3 separate regions of the Homo sapiens genome follow, and regions 1 and 2 are each linked to region 3. The links come from fine-mapping of genetic effects on gene expression. A gene starts in region 3. Each other region holds a variant in brackets. All regions are shown on one strand. Distances are between the middles of the regions.

The links. PIP is the estimated chance that this variant, and not a neighbour inherited with it, causes the effect.
Region 1: its variant is fine-mapped to the expression of PCA3 in cerebellum (GTEx, PIP above 0.99).
Region 2: its variant is fine-mapped to the expression of PCA3 in cerebellum (GTEx, PIP 0.96).

What each region holds. Positions count from the first base shown.
Region 1 is chr9:76,732,966-76,741,152 of GRCh38, reverse strand. The region is part of intron 6 of PRUNE2 (prune homolog 2 with BCH domain); the gene reads left to right. Among named protein-coding and RNA genes, the nearest start is that of PCA3, 27 kb to the left of the region's middle. The variant C/T (reference allele first, on the strand shown) is at 4,538.
Region 2 is chr9:76,611,248-76,619,434 of GRCh38, reverse strand. PRUNE2 (prune homolog 2 with BCH domain) reads left to right here. Exons shown (of 19, transcript NM_015225.3): 18 at 48-95; 19 at 4,835-8,059. The coding sequence ends at 4,865. The region is part of intron 5 of LOC105376095 (a long non-coding RNA gene); the gene reads right to left. Among named protein-coding and RNA genes, the nearest start is that of PCA3, 150 kb to the left of the region's middle. The variant G/A (reference allele first, on the strand shown) is at 4,243.
Region 3 is chr9:76,759,518-76,767,704 of GRCh38, reverse strand. It overlaps PCA3 (prostate cancer associated 3), which reads right to left and starts at 3,267. Exons shown (of 4, transcript NR_132312.2): 1 at 3,150-3,267. All of the region lies in intron 6 of PRUNE2 (prune homolog 2 with BCH domain), which reads left to right.

The DNA.
Region 1 (8,187 bases), 27 kb after region 3:
TACACCACAGTGCATTTATAGGCCATATTTGTATATGATTAGCAAATGTATTATACTTAATGGAATTTTTGGGTTCCTACACATAGATTATTTTAAAATTTTTGTGAGTGTATTCTTCACCCTTAAATCTTGACAAGAAATCAGCTTTGAAATCTTAATGTGGCCCTATCTCTAGGAAAGAGTTCATTTGATGTGGGGTTCAAGCATCACTAATTTAAATAAGTGTAGGAGAAATCAATATGTAAGAGTGTCTAGGAGAAACCATCTCAATAGTGAGATGTGAATTTGTGATTATTTAAAAAACAAAATTAGTTTTCTAACTTTTAGAAACATATAACTTCAATCAGCCAACAGATGCCTGATAACTAGAGGAATTTTGGTTATCTACCTCGATCACTAGCTAAGAGGGAATTCTAATTAAATATTAAAATTTATGTTTTAATTATAAAAATGTTTAATTAAATATAAAGGGTTCTTATTCTTAAGCAAGGAAAACATTTGTCTTGCATTATTTGAGAACCAATAGATGTTTTTTCATTGAGAAAGCAAATGCAAATTTCAAACAATCCACCATTTGTATTAATTAGTAGAGTTCATATTAATACAATTTTATTTTAATGCCTTTTGGCTCTCTTTGAATTGACTCGTGTTGGGGCTCAGCCAGATGACCCTTCAATGCCTAAATCTTTTTTTTTTTTTTTTTTGAAACGGAGTTTTGCTCTGTCACCCAGGCTGGAGTGCAGAGGCACGATCTCAGCTCACTGCAAGCTCCACCTCCCGGGTTCACGCCATTCTCCTGCCTCAGCCTCCCAAGTAGCTGGGACTACAGGCACCCACCACCATGCCTGGCCAATTTATTGTATTTTTAGTAGAGATGGGGTTTCACCATGCTATCCAGGATGGTCTCGATCTCCTGACCTCGTGATCCGCCTGCCTCGGCCTCCCAAAGTGCTGGGATTACAGGCGTGAGCCACCGTGCCCGGTCTTCAATGCCTAATTCTAAATTAACCTCCACATATAATTAGAAATGATCCCTGCTCTTTTTCACTGAGCACTGGATATTTGATAGTTAACTTTGTTTTTTTTTTTGAAACAGAGTATCATACTGTCGCCCAGGTCAGCTCGCTGCAACCTCCACCTCCCAGGTTCACCCAATTCTCCTGCCTCACCCTCCCGAGTAGCTGGGATTACAGGTGTACACCACCACATCCGGCTAATTTTTTGTATTTTTATTAGAGACGGGGTTTCACTATGTTGGCCAGACTGGTCTCAAACTCCTGACCTCGTGATCTGCCTGCCTTGGCCTCCCAAAGAGCTGGGATTACAGGCATGAGCCACCGCGCCTGGTGGATAGTTAACATTTTATTGAGAATTAATCCAGGTCTGTAGTCCCCCATCTACAATTTTGAAATCTAAAGAGTTCCGAAAACTCTAGGGCTTTTGAAACTCTGACAGCAAACTCTGATGTGATATTTATGGCCTTTATCCCTCTTTATATATTTTGATGCATATATATTTGTGTGCTTTAGGGGAGCTGCCCTAGGCTTCACTTGGGTTGATTCATAGTATACATTATAAGCACCATTTTACCTTTCTCAAATTAAAAAAAAAAAAATTCAGTAACAAACTATATCCCTGGTTCCAGGGATTTCTGGTAAGCGATTATATAGACTTATATTTGGGAAAGGCTCAGTGGTGCTTGCCAACCCCATTCTTTTTGTTATCATCATTCATGATAGCATTAAAGACTATTAATAGTGTCATTTATTGAGTACTTCCTGTGTTTATAGGCATGGCTCTAAACCGAGAGCTTGAGGCTGTCACTTTTCACATCGAGCCACATCACTACTTAATGACAGAGCTGCATGGGCTACAGCTGGTATCCAAACCAGGAATTCTACTCCTGCACTCTAGCATTTATTTTTACATCTACTATATATTTGTCCATGAGATTTTTCTCTTCCTCCTTAGTATCCTGTTTTACTTCTGCAGTTTGGTGTTCTTTGTGGAAAATGGGATAAGAATAGTGGAATATACGAGGTAATCCATGCGTAATGTAGTTTGGTTGAGGCCCTTAAGCTCTTAGCTCCCTCCCCGTGTCAGTTTTCTTATAAAATTGGATTCCAACACCAGCTCTGCCCACTTCACAGGGTGATTATGAGGCTGTGATAAGATAATAATATATTTCAAAGTCTTTCAAAGGGCTTTGAAAGGTTAATGTGCTCTATGACACATGCTACCTTTGACTTCATCCCTCTAAAAATCTTCCTAAAGCAAAGTAATTTCAATTCTAAAACATGAGAAGTATCAAATAATTCTTTTGTGCTTAATGTTCAGACTTCTAAACAGAGGTTACCTAGAGTTGGTTACTCAGAAGAAGAAGGAAGATGATGAAAGCCATGATGTCTCTGAGCATACACTGAAATGCATCCCTCAACTCTCATGACTTTTTAGGAACCCGCCATCTTCAGAGAGTGTCAGTGAGCCTGCAGACCTGCAGTGGTTAAATCAATAGTTAATGATGTTCATCATGTAATTTGAGCCTCTAGTTTGTTTATGCTAGACCAACTTTATCCATACTCCAAACAAATTATCTCTTATAATTACCAGCCCGAAGATAAATCTCTAAATGTTTTTCTGATGATAGTGCTATGGTTGGCAGGTGTTAAAAGTGCCTCCCAGGGACAAAGATTGAAGACGAGCTTGTTCCCACAAATCCTCGAGGCGAGGATGTTGAGCTTTCTATCCTGCCATGTGCAAAGGAGCCTTGTATGGTGCCCTGCTAATGAAATCTAATAGGCAAAGGTCGTACATCTTTACAAAGAAAAATGCAAAGTTGGTTGTGTGATAAATGGGCTCCATGGGGCTCAGTGGACGCGATTTAGTGAAAAAACCCGTGTTTAAACAGTCAGCTCGGTTGCTCGCTAATGTTTACGCCTTAAATATCCCCTCACAGTGATTCTCCTTACCTGGTAGAATGATTAAATACAAAAATAAGCATTTTGTATGTTTTTAGTGCTCTAAACCAAAGTGATTGGTCATCTAATGTTAATATTAACATTAACCACCAGAAAAAAAACACTTTGAAACATTTAAAACACAGCTGTAGGTATTTAAATAAGTCGTTGTTTAAAAAACTACCTAATTTAAATGTGCTATTAAAGTCTCTTAAAAGAAGAAGTCTTAGGCTCTGTATGTTTTAATCACTGCTTTCAGAATACTAAATAATGCATGCAAATATGCAAGGTTTTATCCAAAAAATTGTTCTGCTTAGAAATGCAAAAATAAGTTAAATCTGGAATTATAAAGAGTTAAATAAATCAGATATTGTTGAATTGAATCACTGCTGGTTTTAGGAGAAGTTACCAGTTCATTTGCTGTAGTTGTACTGCTGAGCCAAGAGACAGTTCAATAAATCAACTCAAGCTTGATGGATTCTTCAATTCATTGAAATGAGTGCATGGAAGAGAAAAGAAATCTCTTAGTATTCCCTCTTTGACAAAAGGGTATGCAAAGAGCCTGAATGGATGAATGGTTGATTAATTTTGCCAGAAATTTTCTTGACAGCAGGAAATATGTTTTTGCATTACTCTGTTTGCCTGGGATTTATTTGGTAGAATATGAATTCTTGCATGTAAATTTGTACCTGAGGCTATGTTGCTAAAGTAGATAGCTCCTGGTACAGTTTCTGAATACGGGACCTGTAATATTTTTGTATGGTCATGCACTCCACACCTATATGTGCTGCCCTGCAGCGGTGTCTATAAATTTCTGCTGTCACTGATGTTAGCAGAACAGTCGAGCACTGCCAGTGATTCAATATTGAGCTTGGTTTGAATGCTCATCTGTGCTTGTCTCAAGAAAGGATGGGGCTGGAGGCAAGCAACTGCCAGAGCTTCATAATTCCTTGACTCATCAACCTGGCAGCTTACTAATAAATAGACTCTAACCTGTAAATAAGGAAGAGAAGGTACAAGGTAGCCTCTTGTGCTTTCTATACAGCAAGGCTACAATTGAGCACATTTCTTAGTTTTATCTCATCAAGAAGGAATACAGCTACACACGAAAAGAACTTGGCTGCTGTTGATGACAGCAGAACTGTGTGCGAACAGAAATGGGGTAGCCTCTCCATTTACCATCTTATACTGTCCCATAAAGAAGGATGCTGCACCACATAGAGTGGCCCCACCTTTCCCGGGTCAGTGTGGAGGGTAGGAAGGCTTGTGGTTCTCAAAACCTGTATGAGGCAATAGATAATACAATAATTGCTTCCATTTAGACCTCTTCTGCTGCCATGTTCAGGTACTGGAATACTAGGAAGCCCAAGAATGAAGTCATGTACAAAGAAGTGCTTTATTTTCTCCCTACTCGCCGGTCTGAATGTTTGTGTTGCCCCAAACTTCATATGTTAAAATCCAAATCCCCAAAATGATAGTATTAGGAAGTGGAGCCTTTGGGAGGTGATCATGTCATGGGGCCAGAGCCCCCATGAGTGGGATTATTGCCCTTATAAAAGAGACCTCAGAGAGAACCTCAC[C/T]TTTTCTGTCACGTGAGGACACAGCAAAAAGATGGCAGCCTATGAATCAGGAGGCAGGTGCTCATCAGACAGCGAGTATGTCAGGATCTTGATCTTGGACTTTCCGTCTTCCAGAACTGTGAAAGATAAATTTCTGTTGTTTATAAGCTACTCAGTTTGTGTTATTTGCTTACTGCAACCTGAATGGACTAACACACCATTCTTAAATTATTTACCTTCTGTTCATTTTGTTTTCCTTCTAGAGGTTTACACTGGAACTTCCTCTTTCTTTTAGATACCAGACCAGAAATTATCCATAGCATAAAGTATGTCATATGACATTGTGCCTGATTTTACTTTATGTGGTTTTTTTTCACACACCCACATTGAGTCTCTTGAAAGCATACCACCAGAGTGCTTATACTATTTCTGAAAATAAGTATATAGAAAAAGTATCCCTTTACAAATTTTGAATACACACACACACACACACACACACACTCACACAAACCCTACTAATCTCTAAGGCTGAAAAATATTTTCATCAGCTATGCAAATTTGGTATTTCATATTTTCTCCTTAGATTACAGTAAGGGAATGAAAAATGATTAAAAGATAATGTTATGTGAAATAAGAAATTTCCTTGTATGTTCTTATCAGATATGATGCCCAACCTCAAATGAGAACAAATGACGCATGTAAATGTACTAGAATAAAGCTTAGAAAACTTGGGTTCCAGTTCCTGCTCCAGCATCAAATAACTATGTATGATATTGGGAATATTTTTGAAGCTTTTTGAGCTTCAGCTTTCTCATCTGTTAAATGGGTATCACCAATTCTTATCTTACTACCAGCTAAAGAATTGGTGAACATCAATTAAGATTATTTTGATCATATGTAGAAAAGCCAATATTGTTCTATAGACATAAAATTTTACTTTCTCTTTAAGTATTGTTACACTTTTAAGTTTTGATTCTTTGCATATGATAATATCAACCTTTGTTTGATGGAAGCTTCTTAGGCTGGTGCAGCCTAATGAGTGATCCTAAAGTCTTCCATGGTCAGCCTTCCAGTTACTCCTGCTATTCCCTTGTTCTGGGCTCGTAGGAGTCCAGCTGGTAGGAGCCCCAGTTCTTTTGGTATCTCGGTAACTTAATTGTCAGCCACTACGGGGCTAGCTGCTAGTCATAACTGGCATAAAAAAAAAAAAAAAAAAAGAAGAAAGAAAACTATCTTCCTCAATAAAATGTGGGGGACTCTGCTTCTAAAACGTAAACAAGTAATAATTTGGAAGAAAAGCTTTTCTCTTTGTGTGGCCTCTGCTCCTGCAAATGTTCATTTCTCTGATTATAATCAGTAGGTTTTCATAAGTTGTGGCCTCATCTCTCTATTCTTCAGTTGTAAGTGACAGAAATTCAACTCAATTTTGCTTAAGGAAAACAACAAACTGCTCTGTTGATAATCCAGGATAGATCTAGCTTCTGATACTCTTGGACTCAAACTCCAAGTGTGCCATCAGGGCTTGCCTTTTTTCCACCCCTTCCCTCTGTTTCTCAGTGTTGTCCTTGTCCTCAGGGATATTCCTCTCTCCATGACTCCCCAGGATGGCTCTGGGTAGCTCCAGGGCTTGCCTTTTTTCTCCACCCCTTGCCTCTGTTTGTCAGTGTTGTCCTCATCCTCAGGGACACTCCTCTCTCCATGACTCTCCAGGATGGCTCTGGGCAGCTCTAGACTCATGTGATCCTAGATCTCCGTGTCTCAGAGGAACAGGGAGCTTCAAAAACCCCTATGGAGTCTTTGAGTAGCCTCGCTCAGGTCACATGTTATTCCTGAAACCATCACCGTGGCCAAGTGGATGGAACAGAGTATGGCTAGGCCTGGGTCACCTGCCACACCTAGAGCTCAGGTTAGGGGTAAAGACAGCCCCATGTCAGCCATATGAAGTTAGGAGGATTCCTCCCCAAAAGAAGGGATGACAGACAAAAATGCTTATGTCTGTGACAATCTGAACTCATTTTTATTTTAAACTGTTATTTCTAATATTCCAAGGACTTTGCTAGCATTTTATATGAACTATCTCATTTAATCCTGTTGATAAACTATGTAGTAGGTATTATTATTCTCATTTTCAGATACAGAAACCAAGGCTTCGAGGTTAAGTAACTCACCCAAAGTTGTGTAATGAGAAGTGGCATAGCTGAGATTCAAATAGAAGTCTGTCTCATTTGAGAGCTAGAGGGTCTTCCTGACTTCACTATCTCACCATCTTTTTTCCTGTAGGTTCGATGATCTTAAAATTTAAACTTTTTTTGTGCTTGTACCACCTTCTCCTCTGTCCCTGATTCGACCCCTACCTCCTGAACGTCTTTCCATTTTAGGATTATTAAATCATTGAATATCAGAACTGGAAGGCACCTTACAAACATCTACCCAGCCCCTCCTTTCCACAGAAGGAGGGGAGATCTTCTGTGGAACCTCCAGGGAGGTCCTTTTTGTGGACTTCTGAGTGTTTGAATGCTGCCAAATCTGGAAACAGACAAATCAACTCATTTTCATGATGCCCAGACTTGAGTAGCCCTTCCATTGAATAACCTGAATCCCCTACATAGAAGGCATTCAGTAAACACTGTTCTTTGATAATCAAACTAGTTTTTGGCTACAGGATTACTGAAATCATTAACGTTATCCATCTTTCAAAGAAAAAAAAAAAACAACTAAAACTTTTAAGGAACAGACTGCTTTAAAAAAAAATCTTTTTGGATCACAAAGTCAGTAGCAGGAAAAACCCTAAGAGTAAAATGACAGTTATTATATTTTCCTGTTCTGTGAATTGTGTGAAGATTAGGGCAAATTAATTAATTATCTTACCTCTTGATATTGTACAGGCAAATTAATTAATTGTCTTACCTCTGATATTGTACAAAGTTCATAGGGCCAAGTGCTATGGCTCATGCCTGTAGTCCTAGCACTCTGGGAGGCCGAAGCAGGCAGATCATTTGAACTCAGGAGTTCAAGTCCAGCCTGGGCAACATAATGAAACCCTGTCTCTACAAAAAATAAAAAAAAAAAAATTAGCCAGGCGTGCCTGTAGTCCCAGCTTCGTGGGAGGCAGAGGTGGGAGGACCACTGGGGCCCAGAGGGTCAAGGCTGCAGTGAGCTGTGACTGTGCAACTGCACTTCAGCCTGGGTAACAGAGTGAGACCCTGTCTCAAATAGATGAATGAATGAATGAATGAATGAATGAATGAATGAATGAATCTGTGGTTTATGAGTATTGCAAAGACACTAGAGAGCCAAGGAATGAAGTCAGATATTTGTGGTCTGGAACAAGCTGTGTTGATGTGCAATATAGCACTTCAGTCCATGAAGCTGTGTTGATGTGCAGTAGCACTTCAGTCCATGAAGATGTTGCCATCTGTTTTCTTGATGTTGGGGCAGTGCTGTATTGTGTGTGTTGGGTGGTACTGGGGGAGGCTGAGTACTGTGATGCAGGAGCAAGCACCCATACCTGTGGCTACTCAGGCAGAAGACCGATCTCTCTCAGCAGGTAGAAAAATGACTCTACCGTTATTTCCCCAAGTAACCAGGTACCTAACTACTTTCAGAAATTTAAAAAAATCTATATAAATGGCAGCAATGGAGACGAGAAGCAGATGTCCAGTTCTGTCTTC
Region 2 (8,187 bases), 150 kb after region 3:
GACAGTGGGGAAATGTTGACTGCTTCCTATTTTTTCCTTGCACTCAGAACTAGCTGCCTTTACAATGATCCAGAAATGTCTTCTATGGAGAAGGAGTAAGAATTCACCATCAATAACAGCTATGTGGTTACTTGTAGTGTTGTATGGCTGGGCTCTGAAAGAAAACACACTGAGGACTGGGTAAACCCTGTTTAGATGTTCAGCTTTCCTGTGCTCCATTCCTGAAATTAGAAACCTGAAGCTATATTTGCCAGCTTCACACCATTTCATTCACGATCACCCCTTAAATTTCTAAAGGACAACCTGTGGACATGGCATTCTATTTTTCCAATCCAAAAATGGGAAGAAAATGAATATTAGGACCAGATGTAAGAACATTTGGGCAAGAGGAATGCAATTCTGCTTTCTGAATGACATCATCTCTATTTTAATTAGTGGAAGTTGGAACTTCCATTTAATACTTTGGTGGATGGAGAGAAAATGTGCTTGTTTTGCAACATCCAGGAGGAATTCGAGCCTGTATGAGACTGTAGGAATGATCTATTTAGAGGATTGCCATCCTGTGAGAAGCAGAAATTGGACATGTAGTGAGTTCTTAACCACGTTCCAGACTGTAAAAAGCTTCACACGCAGTGTCTGATTTTAATCCTCAGAATAAGTTTATGAGGTACATTTCACAGATGAGGAAAGAGAGGCATGGAGAGACGATCTGACCAGCCCACTGTTTTACAGCTGTAAAAATGGCCCAGAGCTGGAATTTGGACCTTGGCAGTATAGCTCCAGGGCCAATGGTTTTTAAATCAGAAAGAGGTGGTCTTAATGCTAGATGGGTGTACCACTTCCAATTTAATGAAAGACAAAACTATTCACCTAAGAGAACAGAGCGAATTAGTGGCCAAGTCAGTTTCAGGGAATAAACTGTGGTCACCAGCAAGCTTTCAGAGAGAACTTGGTCATCCGACAAGGAGCTTCCAATTTGGTTTGAGTTGTGGAGAATTTAACATTGCCCTTGTTCCTAGCAATCAGGAAGCAGAGGGGAAAGATCAGTTTTAAATGTGTCTCATCTCTATTGTCACCTTTTGCTGTCTTTGGACCTCCTTTGCGTTGAGGTCCAAAAGGAAGTTGGAAAATTATAGTGAAATATCTTCACATTTGCCATGTTGACCTTGCAACTTAAAGGAAGTTTAGGCACAAAAACTCCAGAGACAGTCCCAACTGAAAAAGTTCACAAAGAGCAAAGACTGGGCCAATTCTGGATGCATGCCTATGAGTTAGCCCTGCTCTGCAAGGAAAATTTATTTTTTCTAAATAAAATTTTAAAAAAAGAACAAAGACCATAGAGAGACCTTTGAAATCACACAGCTATTTTTCCAAAGGTCACTGTTGTCCCACCTCTTTTAGATGAAGATAACAATTGCTTCAAGGAAATTGGCACATGAAATTCTGCAAAGCAATAATACCTCAATTCCCCAGTGCACGATAATTCTTTTTGCAACTATTTCTTCCCTCAGCAAAACAGCACCCCCCTTGAGCAGTTAACAGAGCCCACAGTTAACAAGCAGCAGAGAGGGCACATGTGGAAGCCCAGCCAATGGCTGGCCCATCGCTGCTACATCTTGGGGCTTACCCACTTCTTTGCTTGCCTTGTCTGTCTTGCTTCTTATTCCTACGTAGGGCTGTTTGGTTGGGAAGAGGGCAACCATTGCTTCCTGTCTGGGTTCATTTCAGGGCTGGGCATGGAGGAGGGAGGGATACTACAAATTGTTATTGTTACTTCCCACTTTTTAGAAGAACATATTCTTCTCAAGTCTTCCCTTTCTTCAGCCCTCTCTTTCCTGAGCCCTTAAGAGGCACAAGATCACAGTGTGGATGATGAGATCAGGATAAGGGGCAAGAGTAACCAAGAATTTTTTTTTTTTTTCTGACTTCCAGTCCTGGATTTCTGGCTTTCTTTGGTATTAGAATAAGGGCTGCATTTACTTCTTCTGGCACCTTTACACTGTAGGCCATCAAGGACAGAGGAGCATTCTGTGTGGAAGCATTTTACACCTTCCAGAGCTAGTGTTGAATGAATACACTGCAAAATGGGCAAGGGTTCTTCCAATGGGCTCGATCAGTCCAAGAATAAGATGGAGTGTGTGCTGTTATCGTAGTGGCCTCTCATTTTCCTCAGAGACAGAAGGGAAGGTTATGCCCATTTTCTTCTTTCTACATAAAATGCAAATGTTTTTATTCATCATTAAACAATATTGTCTGACAGTTTGTAAGGAACCTCATTTAATACGTGTTAGACACAAAAATGGCCTATTGTAAAATTATCAGAAGGTTGCTCTGTCTCAGGAAAAAGTTGCTTATAGAAAACTAAGCCCATTTGCCCGAGGATTAAGAATATTCAATTCTAATTAAAAGTATTCTTTTTTCCAAAAAGGATACTTTTATTTATTTATTTATTTATGTATTTATTTATTTATTTATTTTTAAATAGCCCTGGGTGCTTGTCTCCTTCCCTTTTAGGTTTGGATTTTATGAATTTCTTCATGTTCCAAAACTTGCAACATGCCTTTTTATATTTTTACATATTTGTTTAAAGTACAGTGATCAAGAGTGGCTCTATTTGAAGAAGCTTAAATTAGCATCATTGTTAATAGCTTTGTTAACTCCACAACGTTGCTGTTCTCTCAAATATTAACCTTCCAAGTGGTTTCCTGTATTTACTTACAAGAAAATTGTTCACTTTTGACTATCTCATTTATTTCATAAACTGGGTAAACAGGTTCCAGTCTTTTAGCTTTTGAGTTAACGAAAGCTGAAGGGATGAATTAAATCCTAGAAGATTTACAAAAAAGTCAGTACGAAAAATAATCGAGATGGGCATCCTGGTGTAAGTGTTAGCTCAGGGGCCCGATGGTGAAACAAGGTGACCATGTTCTTTTAAGCTTCCAAGACTATTTCACATATTCTGACCCACTCTCGCAGTTTTTAGACGATGTGCCCCAAATTTTGGTTTAGTAAATATTCTCTTCATCTATGGGAAAAAGTCAACCAACACCGTGAGAGAAAGAATCAAATTTCCAATCACCAAATCAAACTTACTACAGATTTCCGGGAACAGGAAGGACCTTTTAAAAGCAAAAACAGTATATTTTTTAAATGACCTGTTTTGTAAAGGTATATGAAAAAGATGTCGGGGTCACAGTGGATAAAAAGAGGATACCTCTAAAGCAAACTCTGCAGGTAAGAAAACAAGTCAGAGGGCCTGAAAACTAGAAATATTCATGATGATTTTGGCTTTCCAAAGGAGACAAGATTGTTGCAAGTAGGGTAATAAAGCGAAGAGCTATTTGCTCATTTCAAAAAAACACTGAGGGGCCGGGCATGCTGGCTCATGCCTGTAATCCCAGCACTTTGGGAGGCTGAAGTGGGCGGATCACGAGGTCAAGAGATCGAGATCATCCTGGCCAACAGGGTGAAACCCCGTCTCGCTAAAAACACAAAAAATTATCTGGGCATGGTGGCGTCTGCCTGTAATCCCAGCTACTCGGGAGGCTGAGGCAGGAGAGTCGCTTGAATCTAGGAGACGGCGGTTGCAGTAAGCCGAGATCGCACCACTGAGCTCCAGCATGGCGACAGAGCAAGACTCCATCTCAAAAAAAAAAAAAAAAAAACCACACACACAAAACAACAACAAAAAAAATCCACCGAGGTACTATTGCTGCTAATAATAACAGACATTATGATATGTTCATTATGTACAATTGAAAATGCTTTAGACTTATTCATTAGCAAGCTGTGAAAGCGGTATGACCGTTCCATTTTACAGATACAGAAATGGAAACTTAGAGAAGGTGGGTGACTTGGCCAAGTCCCCACTGCTAATAAGTGACGGAATTGCTGACTATATTTCAAAGGAAAGATACTTTACTACTGTAAACTGGATGGGCAGGCAGCGTGAGTTGCCAGTGGCTTTATTTGCAAAGCTTCTAGAATGAACACTGCTCAGCTGCCGCAAATTCCACAAGTAAAGCACAGTAACCTTTGCAACATGCAAGCTTATGGCTCAGGGAGCAGAGATAAGCAAAATCCACAGATACGTGCCAAATCACCCTTTGCAAACTAATAGTTTCTCTTTTATCGCAACTGAAATTCTTCCTCTATTTACTGGCTTTTGGTTTTCTTCCTCTTGGGTGGATGCGGTAGGAAGTTGTGCTGTGTTCACTAAGAAGCAGAAGAGAGACGTGATTC[G/A]AGTGAGTTTTAGGCTTACTCCTCAGATACTTGGGAACCCATTTGACCTTCTGAAAAACAAGCTTTTCTTTAGTTATAAACATCCATCTCAGTAAGGTAGGCTAACCCCTTTCAGTCAATTCCTTTGGCTTCTAGAAAATGTTTGGTGTTGTTTTGTTGTTTACCATTTCTTACTATTTAGTGCTTGTCAGACATTACTTACTTGAGGCAGAACATTTGTTTGCTTCACAAGGAAAGGTCACTTATTAAATAAAATGGCATGATTTCTGGAATACACTAATGCTCCTTATCTTAATTGACTTTGGGAATGAGCCTTTACATGAGTTTTTTACCTCCCTGGATCATTTTGAAAAGGTGTAAAATGCTTCCAGAAACGATTTTGTAGAACTAAACAGATTTCATATGTTGGAGAAAAGCCTGACAAGAGGAGGATTGGGTTTTACCAGATTTTTCTATTATAAGAAACTTGCATGATTTAAATATTTTCAGTATGTCCTTTGAGGAAAAAAGCAAACACAGTGCTACCCAAATCATTACTAAATGTCTCTCATTTGGTTTCTCATGTTTCTCTCTCTTTTTCTTTTCTTTGCAGTATTGACTTGAAGCTGAAAGAAAAGCCTTAGTTGGCCATGCTGGAAGAAGAGGATGCTTTTCTGGTTCATGGTTCTGTTGAAACATATCTACCTGAAAGAGACAGGGCTGATGTTACCTTTTTCCACTTTGCACTACCTGGTGCCATTCTAAATTTCTAAGGGGAAAAATAGAAAGTTTGTTTACTCTTAAGATATTTTATGAAATTGTGTGTACTTTCCTATTTTGCCAATTATGTGCCTCAAAGATTTTAGTTGAGCCTTAGCAAGAAAGTAGGACCTTCCATTTCAATACTTCATTAACACGGTGTAGTGATACTTTGTCCCTTAGACTGGTGTTTACCAGTAAGATACCTTTAATCCACTGTTAAGTATGAGTGGATTTGTTTCCATAGATTAGCTGGATTTCCTTTTGGTGATTGCATTAGGTTTAAAGTACACAGGTCTCAACTCTCCCCAGGAAAGTTTCCCCTGTTTGACTCCACCTTTAAAATCCTAAGCCTGACTAGGACAGCCACAAACCACACAAGGTGTAAAACCATCATCAGCTAAGTGCCCGTTTTGTTCTTGTTTACCAGAATCTCCTTTAACTTCTCAAAGGGAAGCCGGGCTTTCTAATCCACGTCAACTTTATTTTAGTTGTCAAATTGGGCATTATATTTTATGTAAATTGGTCTTTTAACATCATTTTCCTGATGAATGTTGGTGACCACCACATTGTGAAATTTAAGAATCCGTGTTGCATGTTTGGTAGCTCTCTGAGTTTCAGGCCATAAACTCAGCTCCAGAGGTTACCTTTTAAGTGCCAAGAACTCAAGTGCAAGGTGGCCTACTCAAAAATCATTTGGTAGCATTCAGTTATTCATGAATTCCTCTCTCGCATGCATTATAAAAAGTGATCTGCTTTAAAACACCGTAATCTGATCATAGGCTTAAAATTAAATATGAGTATTACTTTCATGTACAAAATATTTCCTTTATAGTCTTCATATGCCCTTTAAAATGCCAACAAGATTTCAAGTCTGTAGGCCTCTAGTGAGGTGGGGTGGCAAACCACAGCTAAGTCTCGCTCACCACTGCAAGCTAAGAATGGTTTTTACATTTTGGGTTGGAAAAATTTTTTTTGAATATTTCATGACACATGAAAATTATTCAAATGTTAGTGCCGATAAATAAAGTGGTACTGAAACACAGCCACACAAACTTGTTTTTGTACTGTCTACAGCTACTTTCACACTACAGCCGCAGAGCTGAGCAGTTCAGCAGACCGTATGTCCCACAATGCCTAAAACATTGACTATGTTTACAGAAAAAGTTTGCTGACCCCTGCTCTAGCAAACGCATCCTTTCCTACTCCACCCCAATTTGTATTTAGATAGTTTCTCTAACAGAACGGACAAATGAGGCTGCAAACTAATTTATTTTTGTCAAAAATCAATGTTTTGACATCCACAGACAGTGAAATAAAAGAAATGGCTTGCTGAAAAACATGAGGAGTCCTAGCCACAAAATCACTGCTTAGGTTGCAATTGCCAAAATGAAGCCTTCTTAGAAGCACTTCTTTAGTATATACAGGTGTTGGCTGAAGTCCGTGCCTCACTCTGGGAACCATTCTTAGTCTCCAGTGTCTCCTATTACAAAGAAGCTGGCAGAAATAAAAATGAAGGGGTGAGAGCGGTTCCACCCTAGTCTCATGGTGGAAAATTCATTGGGGAGAGCTGTCCAGGATATTTGGAGTCCTGGGTAGAAGGAGCTTGTAACTACTTTAAAGTCGACATCTTTGCACAGGTGATTGAGTTTCTCTGACCTCATTGCTTCACCTCTGTCTCCTCCCGTCCTTCCGCACGTGCCCACACACACGCAGTTCAGCCCTCTTTCCTCCATAAGCCTCCATCGTTTTCTCTTTTCTCCTCTTGATCCTTTCAAGCGAGTATCTTGTTGAATTGTATGTTCTGTTGGATCTCCTCCTTCATAACATCTGGCTTGTTGGACAGAAAAACCCTACAGCCCACCCCCTCCCACAGCCCACCTCCACTTTTGAAAGCCCAAATTACACCTCTCCCAGAACACAGTGTTGACGTAAATACAGTTACCCAATATTCCTGTTTGTTCACCTATTTGCTACTTTCACTCAGTAGCATCCCATTTTGTAAAATGAATTCCATGGTCACCCTGTCACAGGAAGTAATGAAAAATCCAGTGTTCAGTGTAGTGGTGCAAACCTGAGGGCATAGAGCTGTTCATAGAGGGCTCTTGTTATAGCCAAACAGACACAGCAACAATCTCACCATTTATATATATATTTTTAACTTGTCCAGCTCATCTATGGAAAACTACTCAGGTGGTATGCTGTTTGAAGCCTCATCTTCCTACATGAAAATTATGGGCATTTGTCCCAATGATTTTGTTTCAGCTGTTCTGTAGGCTGCATAACCACTCTGATATTTAGGTATCTGCTATTTTATTATCTTAAAAGACAAATTAATTTAATTGCATGTGCTAGGGAAAAGCTACCATGTACATTCACCCCAAGTAAATAGAATCCTAGATGAATCCTAGAAAAATAATCCCTAAGCAGATAGGTAGACAGAGGTAAACATTCACATGATTTAGCTCTCTAGCTCTTGCACTCTGAACATTCTTGCTTTGGTTCTGACTTCTGGGAACTGCTTTGCATTTCTCCTATAGATCTGTAGTTAAGGGAACCAAGGGGTCATTGGGGCAAAAGCATTGTTTCTCAAAGCTCCTTGATTAAGAGAAAGAACAGAAATTTGCACAGAAGATAGTGTCAAGGAGTGAGAAAGTTTGTTTGAGGGCAGTAGCTCAGTGTGGAAGAAAATCCTGAAGTTTCTGTTGAAGCCATACAATGTTCTATGGGGTTACTCTCTAAGACATTCTCTGAGGTGTGTGAGGAAGTCACTACTCCTAGCCTTTGTTAAGATGTAATTTTAAATATTCAGTTATGGTACTATGTTTGCAACTCTCGTCTTATCACAATGCCTCAGTAGTTTGTTCCCTTAGAAACATTTAGATGTGCACAAATTAATCTTTTATATATCTAAAGGTTTTTCTATCATGCATTGGATTGCTCAGAATAAAGTGTCTGTTAGACTTCGTTTTGGTAAATAAATTCTCCATAATGTAGATTAATAATATAAAAGTCTTTAATGACACAATATATCTATATAGCCTCACTGTATAATTCAGAAATAAAAATTGATTCTGCATGTGATGGTTTTCTTTCTTTGAGTCAGCAAGAATTTTTCTCTGGCTTCACTTTGCAGCAGTTTTATCTCAACATCAATCTAGCTTGGCACTTGGTACTGGAGGACTGTATACATTTTGGTTTTTCTGT
Region 3 (8,187 bases):
TATTAAAACAAAATAGGGTCAAGAGATGAGGCTTTAAGGTGCCTCCTGTTAGGGGAGGAGGAAGATGAGAAGTCAACAAAGAAGGTAGGGAAACAACCATGAGAGTAGTGTCATGCAGTCACAGAAGCGAAGGTTCTGGAAAATAGTTCTTTTTCTTTTTAAAGAGGTGATCAATGGAGTCAAGGGCAAGGAAGAAGTGGAAAGCAAGGAAAATAAAGAATCTGTGCTTTTTTCTTTCTTTCTTTTTTTTTTTGAGACAGAGTTTTGCTCTTTTTGCCCAGGCTGGAGCGCAGTGGCACAATCTTGTCTCACTGCAACCTCTGCCTCCCGAGTTCAAGCTATTCTCCTGCCTCGGCCTCTCGAGTAGCTGGGATTACAGGCGTGTGCCACCATGCCCAGATAATTTTGTATTTTTAGTAGAGACGAGGTTTCACCATGTTGGTCAGGCCGGTCTTGAACTCCCGACCTCAAGTGATCTGCCCACCTCGGCCTCCCAAAGTGCTGGGATTACAGGCGTGACCCACAGTGCCTGGCCAAAGATTCTGTTTTGAATAGGTCCTTGGTGACTGCCAACAATAGTTTCAGTAGAGGAGAGAGAGTTTATTTGTTAAACAGATATTTATTCATCAGTAAGTATGTTGGAGACGCTATACCAGAATACAGCAGTGAATAAGACAGGCAAGGTTAAGATTTCACGAAGCCTACCTTCGCCTTGGGGGGAAGGTGTGGCGAGGTGGGAGAGGTAGATGATAAACAATAAATAAGGAAAATGGTCATTTTGAATAGTGATCATGTGTATGCGTTGTGTATGTGTATGCCTGTGTATGAGTTGACAGTGACAGTGGTAGGGTTGGACCGCAGAACAGTGCTTTGGAGAGAAAGCCCTCACAGAGAAAGTGATGTTTGGACTCCCTATGTGATAAGAAGCTACACATGAAAAAATCTGGGGATTGTACATTTCAGGCTGAAGAAATGGCAAATCCTAAGGCCCTAAAGCAGGAGCAAAATTGACATGTTTGAAGAAGACGAGTGTGACTGGACCTCTGTGATTGGGGGGAAGTGGCGCAGGATGAAACGAGGGAGGTATGTAAGGACCAAAACATGGAAGGAAAGCAAGATTCCCAGAAAAAGTGGATGGGAGAGGCACTATCCATGAACATGATCCAGTTGTCCAAGAAAGTTAATTTAGCAGAAAGAAATGGAATGTTAATGTTGGTTCAGATGCAGAATCTAATATGTGTTTTATTTTAAATAAGGGAGAGTTAAGCATCGTTAAAGACATAAGAAAAGAGAAAGCTGACTCCTTTTCTTCCAGTGACCATTAGTAACGTATTCTCCCACAAGGCACACAGCCACCCACTCAATGCTGTCATTAATCCCACACAGATAGGCTTTGCCTGGGGAGTGAACATATGGTATCCCCTGAAGCTTTTGTCTTTTCTGCTTGAAGCTAGTTTGTAAAAATCAAAAATGATATTGCATTTACTTTGGTATATTTCTAAAGAGTTTTTTTTTTTTTTTTGAGGCAGAGTCTTGCTCTGTCACCCAGGCTAGAGTGCAGTGGCGCAATCTTGGCTCACTGCAACCTCCGCCTCCAGGGTTCAAGCGATTCTCCTGCCTCAGCCTCCCAAGTAGCTGGGACTACAGGTGCCTGCCACCACGCGCGGCTATTTTTTTTGTATTTTTAGTAGAGACGGGGTTTCATCATGTTGGCCAGGATGGTCTCAATCTCTTGACCTCGTGATCAGCCTGCCTTGGCCTCCCAAAGTACTGGGATTATAGGCGTGAGCCACCGCGTCTGGCCTCTAACGAGATATTTCTAAAGGTTAGGCCTTCAGTCAAGAATTTTAAAGCTGGATCTTAGAGGTTATCTAAACTAACCTCTCCATTTCATAGATAAGGAAAGTGAGTCCCAGAAAAGCACTGGTTTGGACAAGTTCAGAAAGCTAAACAGTGACTGTGGATGTATGATTCTGTCTCTTAACTCCTAATCCAAATGTCTTCTCACTAGATAAGGCTGTGCCTTCTACATTTGAAGGCTCAAACCCCATGGATGGATGGAGGGAAGGATGGGTGGAGGGATGGATGGATAGATGGATGGATAGATAGTTTACTCATTCATTCAGTTATGCAAGAAAGATTGAGCCACCTCCCCATCAGACAGTGTGCTAATTGCTAGAATGCAATTATGAGAGCTGTTTATAGTGCCTGTCTCTATTCTGTATGCCTTCCTTACCTCAGTTGAATCCAGGGAGGTATATAATCCCACCATTCTATTGAAACCCCTCATCAAGATCACTAGTGACCTCTGTTATCAAATATAAGGACTATTTACCTATTCTTATCTTTCTTCATAGCATTCAAAACAATTGACTACTTCCTTCTCCTTGATGTCTATTTCATCTTGGCTTCTATGGCATCGTTTTCTTCCAAATGCCCCCCACCTGCTGGAAGCTCTGTTTCTGTTTCCTTTGCTGGCTCCTCCTCTTGTGTTTAACTTCTACATGTTGGAATTCCCAGCTTGGTTCCAGCTCATTGACTTTTCTCTAACTGCATGTCCACTCTAAGTGGTTATATGTTAATGTCACGCCCCCAACAAATGTACATCTGCTACTGAACTCAAAACGTATATCTCTAACTTGCCTGCTTGATATCTCCATTTAAATATCTAATGGGTATCTCAAATTTAACATGTGCTAAACAGAACCTTTGACTTTTTCTCTAAATCTGCTCTGCATCATTCTTCTCTCTCAGTATAGTTAGTCAGCAACATTAAACAAGTGTCTTCTATGTGCCAGAGTCTGTTGTAGACATTGGGGTTACAGTAGTGATGAAACAGACAAAAATCTCTAATATCAAGTACCTTCCATTCCAGTGGAGGGAGAAGGATCATGGAAGCCAAGCAAATAGCTTGTTCACTCCAAAAAGGCCTAGGCCCAGCCACCACCTCTCACCTTAACCATTGCAATAACTTAACTGGTGTCCCTGCTCCTACCCTTCTGCTGTCCTATCAACACAGCAACCAGAGTAATTTGTATAAAACACAAATATAACAGAAACACAAAACCTCTTCCCCAACTTTAAACCTTCTAGTCACTTCCCATAGCTCTTTGAATAAAATTCCAAACCCATTCCCATGGCCTACAGACCTCTGTATCATCAGGTCCTTCCCACCATGCAGATCTTCCTGGTCTCCCTCGGCTGCAGCCACACAAATCTCCCCTCTGTTTTTCTGATGCCAGCTTCTCGGCACTTGCTATTTCTTCTGTCTGGAACACTCTGACTTCAGAATATGAAAGCAGGTGGCCACTCCCATCATGCAAGAATGCCAACCCACATACAACCATACCATTTCTCAGATTTCCCAGTTTAAACCTTCCTTCTGTCTCATCATGCTCCTTCCCGTCACACTATGTTGACACGTTGCTATTAAAAATTATCTTATTTATTTATTTATTTATTTATTTGTTTGTTTGTTTTCTGCCTCCATGCACTGAAATGCAGCTCCATGAGAGCAGTGACATGTCTGTCTTGTTGGCTCCTATATCACTGGTGCCTAGAACAGTGCCAGAAACACAGGAGTTGTTCAGAAGTATTTGCTCTGTGAATCAACGAATCAATGAATGCATTGTGAATGAGGTTATTGGTCCTACCCTTGCCCAACAAATAATCTTTTAACCCTAACGAAGTTGAGATCCACAGGTCAATTCCTAAGGTGCTCCTCTAGTGAAGTCTTGTCCAAATGTGAGTTCCCATCTTTACTAATATCTTTCAAACAGTGTAACTCAATCGAAGTGCTTAGTCCATGGCAACTCATTAAATTTCCTTTCCTCTTTTATTTATTGACTCATGGGCACCTCTCACTGTCTAAACACAGAAGAAAGCTCCCTCTTCCCCATGCTTCCCCATGCCCTTTATCCCACTCCCTCTTCCCCACTACCCCTCTCCTTCTCCATATTGGGCCTCCCAGCACTTCCTGTCACTGCCATACCATTCTCCTCCCCACCTGCTCTTCTGCAGTATCCACCAACGTGGCTTTTAATCTCTCAGTCCTCAGAGAGCACAGGAGAGGCAAGGAAGCTAAATAGACGACACCAGATCCTCTCTTGGGGACGGGGGATATGAAACTTCATCTGTTCATTACTTTTGTGTCATCCCAGTTCATTGGTAGAACTGGGCAAGTACACCACCAGCTTGTGTTTGAAGTGGTATTACGAGTATGTTTTCTCCAGGAGAGTAGAGAGTAGTTGCGTCTAATTCAGACTTGGGGTGAGCACTCCCAGAAGCACGCCTATGCTTGTTATGGCTCACTTAGATGACTACACTTACTGCAAAGCCTATTAATACTTAAGCCACATAGTATACCAGGTACTGTACTAAGTCCTTTAAGGTAACTTATTTAAACCTCACGTAACTCTGTGACACCAGTAGTCCTGCTATGATCCCATTTTATGGATGTGGCAACTGAAATTAAGTAACTTGCTCAAGATCTCATGACCAGTAATTGACTTGACTTCCAGTGCAGGCAGCACCTGGGCTTTTTGTCATGATGCTATAATGCTGCCCCGACCAGAAGAAGACCTCAGTCTTCACATCGTTTGACACAGGACTTGAGGAAAAGTACACATTGCCAGATGGAGCTAGAAGGGGAGATGGTGCACGAGGTGGGAGGAGTGCAGGTTTGCGGTAGAGGATGTGTCTCAGAAATGGCAACCATTCAATGAGGTTGGAGCCAAAGACACAGTGGGGAGTGAAGGAAGCTATTTTGTCTGTTTTAAAAAAATTGTAAATCAGAAACCAAATATCCAGTTTGCTGGTTTCTTTTGAGGATTGCTCTGCCTGGGATTTATCTTGAGTCCAACTAAAAACGTTTTACCTGGTTTGTTTGGATTAAGATTGCCAAGTTGTGGAGCCACTGAGGCTCCTTACGTGTCCACAGCCATGCTCATGGCGAAGGGCCTGACTCTGGAGCTCAATCTCATGTGGTCGTGTATGTAGGGACCTCCGCCTCCATACAAGAGCTAGGACTGGAGGAGCCACAGACAGTCATTCTACACTGCCTGCATTTTGAACATGTAAAAAGAAACGTGGAGAGTTTGGAGAGTTTGAAAAGGATGGTCCAGGGGGCTGGGGGTAAAATTACTGCAAGAGTATCTCACCACCTCTCTCAGAGTTTGTTAAGAAATGAACATGTGTGGAATCTATAGTAAAAAGTGGTATTAAGCATTTTAAAGATGGGCCTCTTCCAGAAAGTTCGAGCCAAGCAGACCGCCATCTGGATTATTCCCATGGTAGTTGCTCTCTCTGCGCACATTTCTGCAACCGCCATTCCTGCCTCCCTTATTAATAGGTTATCCGGAAATGACTTTGGATCACTGCTTCCTATGTTAACACACTTTTTGATGAAATAACAGAGAGTATTGTCATTAAAGATTTGGAAAAAAGTTAAATCTTTACAGGAGTCAAATGCAGCACATTTAATGGTTGTTGTAGAACTCAGGGCAAAGAAATCACTTTTTCCAACAACAGAAGGAAACTGTTGGTGACTTCCAAACTGGCTAAAGGTCCTTGTTCTAACCATTCTTTTTGTTTAAAATTGCTAACCTTAAAAATGATTTCAGAGTTGGCACCAGATGCATTGGAGGCTGCTAAAGTACACTTAGGAAAGACTTTAAAGCCATTAAAGTTATATGACAGTATTTTGAAGTTGTCTTTTAAATATGACGGACCCAGTTGTTTGACCATACATGATACATAATATGATATAGCTCCAGAGTGGCATTATTTGGAACAGAGTTTATGAATCATTTAAAAATTGTACCTATAACCAATGCAAAAGCTATAATTCATGTAAAGCTATAAATAATCTATCTCAAAATCTACATAAGATAGATTGACAGAGTGCTATTTGGAGTTTATGGGTCTTTTGATAAACTTTGATTAATATTCTCAAGTCAATCATTGTTGAATGAAGTATTTTAAAATTATTTGGTGAAAATTATGTATGTTTTCCAGTGTTTTCTAAAGACTTTCACTTTCTAATGGAAATTCAGAGCCACCTAGTGACCAAAAGTAAAATGTCTAAAGTATAAAACATGACAACAAAAACTCCCAGCAAAAGAGAAAAGCAATCATTTGACCCCGGGCTTTGATGTCCAGAGATAAAATTGTATCCAGTTCAGGTCTACAAAAGTAGAATTCTTACAAATTAAATTGACTAAGTCTTTTGTTATTTGGGGATTAAAGGCCCCTAAACATAGACTTGAGGTATATAGATGATTAATTTTTGTCGACACCATTTTATCAAATGAGAATTGTCTGACTTACACAAATATAGGTGACTGTTCCTCACAGATGCATCACCCCTTCCTTGATGGTGTGTTCCACTTCTGACCAGTTTGTGTATTATGACTCAAGAAAAAAAAAGATGGGGCAGCAATCTCACAGAAGACAGGACCAATGGTGGAGGAGGAAGAAAGGCATGAGGTAGATTTAAACTCCCCAAATGAGGCTTCTAATTCAGATTCATTTTTCAGCATAAAGATTCAGGCAATTCTATTAAATTTGGTTGGATTAAATTCAGCAAACCTCTGTTGAGTATTTTTTTTTTTTTTTTTTTGAGACAGAGTCTCAGTCTGTCACCCAGGCCGGAGTGCAGTGGTGTGATCTCGGCTCACCGCAACCTCTGCCTCCTGGGTTCAAGCAATTCTCGTGCCTCAGCCTCCCAAGTAGCTGGGACTACAGGCATGGGCCACCGCACCCGGCTAATTTTTGTATTTTTAATAGAGATGGAGTTTCGCAGTGTTGGCCAGGCTGGTCTCGAACTTCTGGCCTCAAGTGATCCACCCACCTCCACCTCCCAAAGTGCTGGGATTACAGGTCACCGCGCCCGGCCCGAGTCTGGACATGTACAGGTTTCTTGCTAGGCATGAATGCAGTAAATCTAAGATGCATGTAGAGAGCCAGGGTTTTCGGCTTGGTTGAAGTAGAGTGAGTCTAGAAGGACACATAGAAGATGAGGGTGGAGAGGTAGGACGTGGCTGTGATGTGGAATACTGTGATACCTGTTCCTTTTGGGGGGCTTTTGGCTAAAATCATGGTCATAGTTAGGATGATTAATCTGGATGCAGCATGTAGTGTGGACTAATGCAGGGTAAACAGATGTCAGGAAGAGCAGTGAGGTTATTCTAATGGTTTTGGATACAAGTCATAAGCATGTGACCTGGAATTATTAAAGTAAGAAGGGAAAAAGTAGATTAGAGAAAAAGAGAAGAATCTTTGGTACTGATATGGGGGAGCAGTGATATCAAGGGTGACTCCAAAATATCTGCCCTAGGTGATGAGGAAAAGAAAATGATAGAAATAATATCCTATAGCATCAGTAATGGACAAAAGGGTACCAGGGAAGTAGCTGGTGTGTGATGGAGAAAATGTGAGTATGGTTTTGATATCCATCCATTCATTCAGAAACATATACGGAGTGCCTGCTGTGTGCCGGGTGCTCAGGTTGCAGTACCATCAACAGACCCCAACTGCCAGGTACCCAGGGAAGAGGAAGGCAGCCCTGTTTCTACACCAAGGAGCCAGATTAGAGCCAATGGACAAGCTCTTTGCCAAGTGCACCAGCTTTTTAAACTAATTTATTTAAATTGTAGGGGATAACTATTATTATGTTAGTGTACAAAGGAAGTGAAACTGGAGAATTCCCTGACTGCCCTCGCAGGACGTGTGACAGGGGTGTGGCTCATCTGTTTGGCAGCTGTGTGCTCAAACCCCTTATGGGAGGAGGAGCACGCAGATGGGCAGGTGCAGGAGCCAGGGCGAGTGCTTCTGGGCTCCGGCCCCGTGGTAGCATCTAGGGCTGGGTGCCTGTGACTCCCAAAGCCCCAGTGGGCATGCTACAGTGCTCTTTTAACTCTGCAGTCCACAGATGGCTTAAGTGTTAACCAGCTCAGTGCCCTCTTGGTACCTGGGTTCTTGTCCAGCATCCAGGAAGAATCAGGCCACATGGATAAATTGAAAGATGGTAAATGTGGGGGATTTTATTGCCAGACGAAGATGGCTTTCAGCAGGATGGATGGGGAGCTGGAAAGGGAATGGAGTGGGAAGATGATCTTCCCCTGGAGTTCAGCCACTCTCCTCTCCAAATGACCCCAGCCAAAGTCCTCTCGATGTTCAGACACTCCT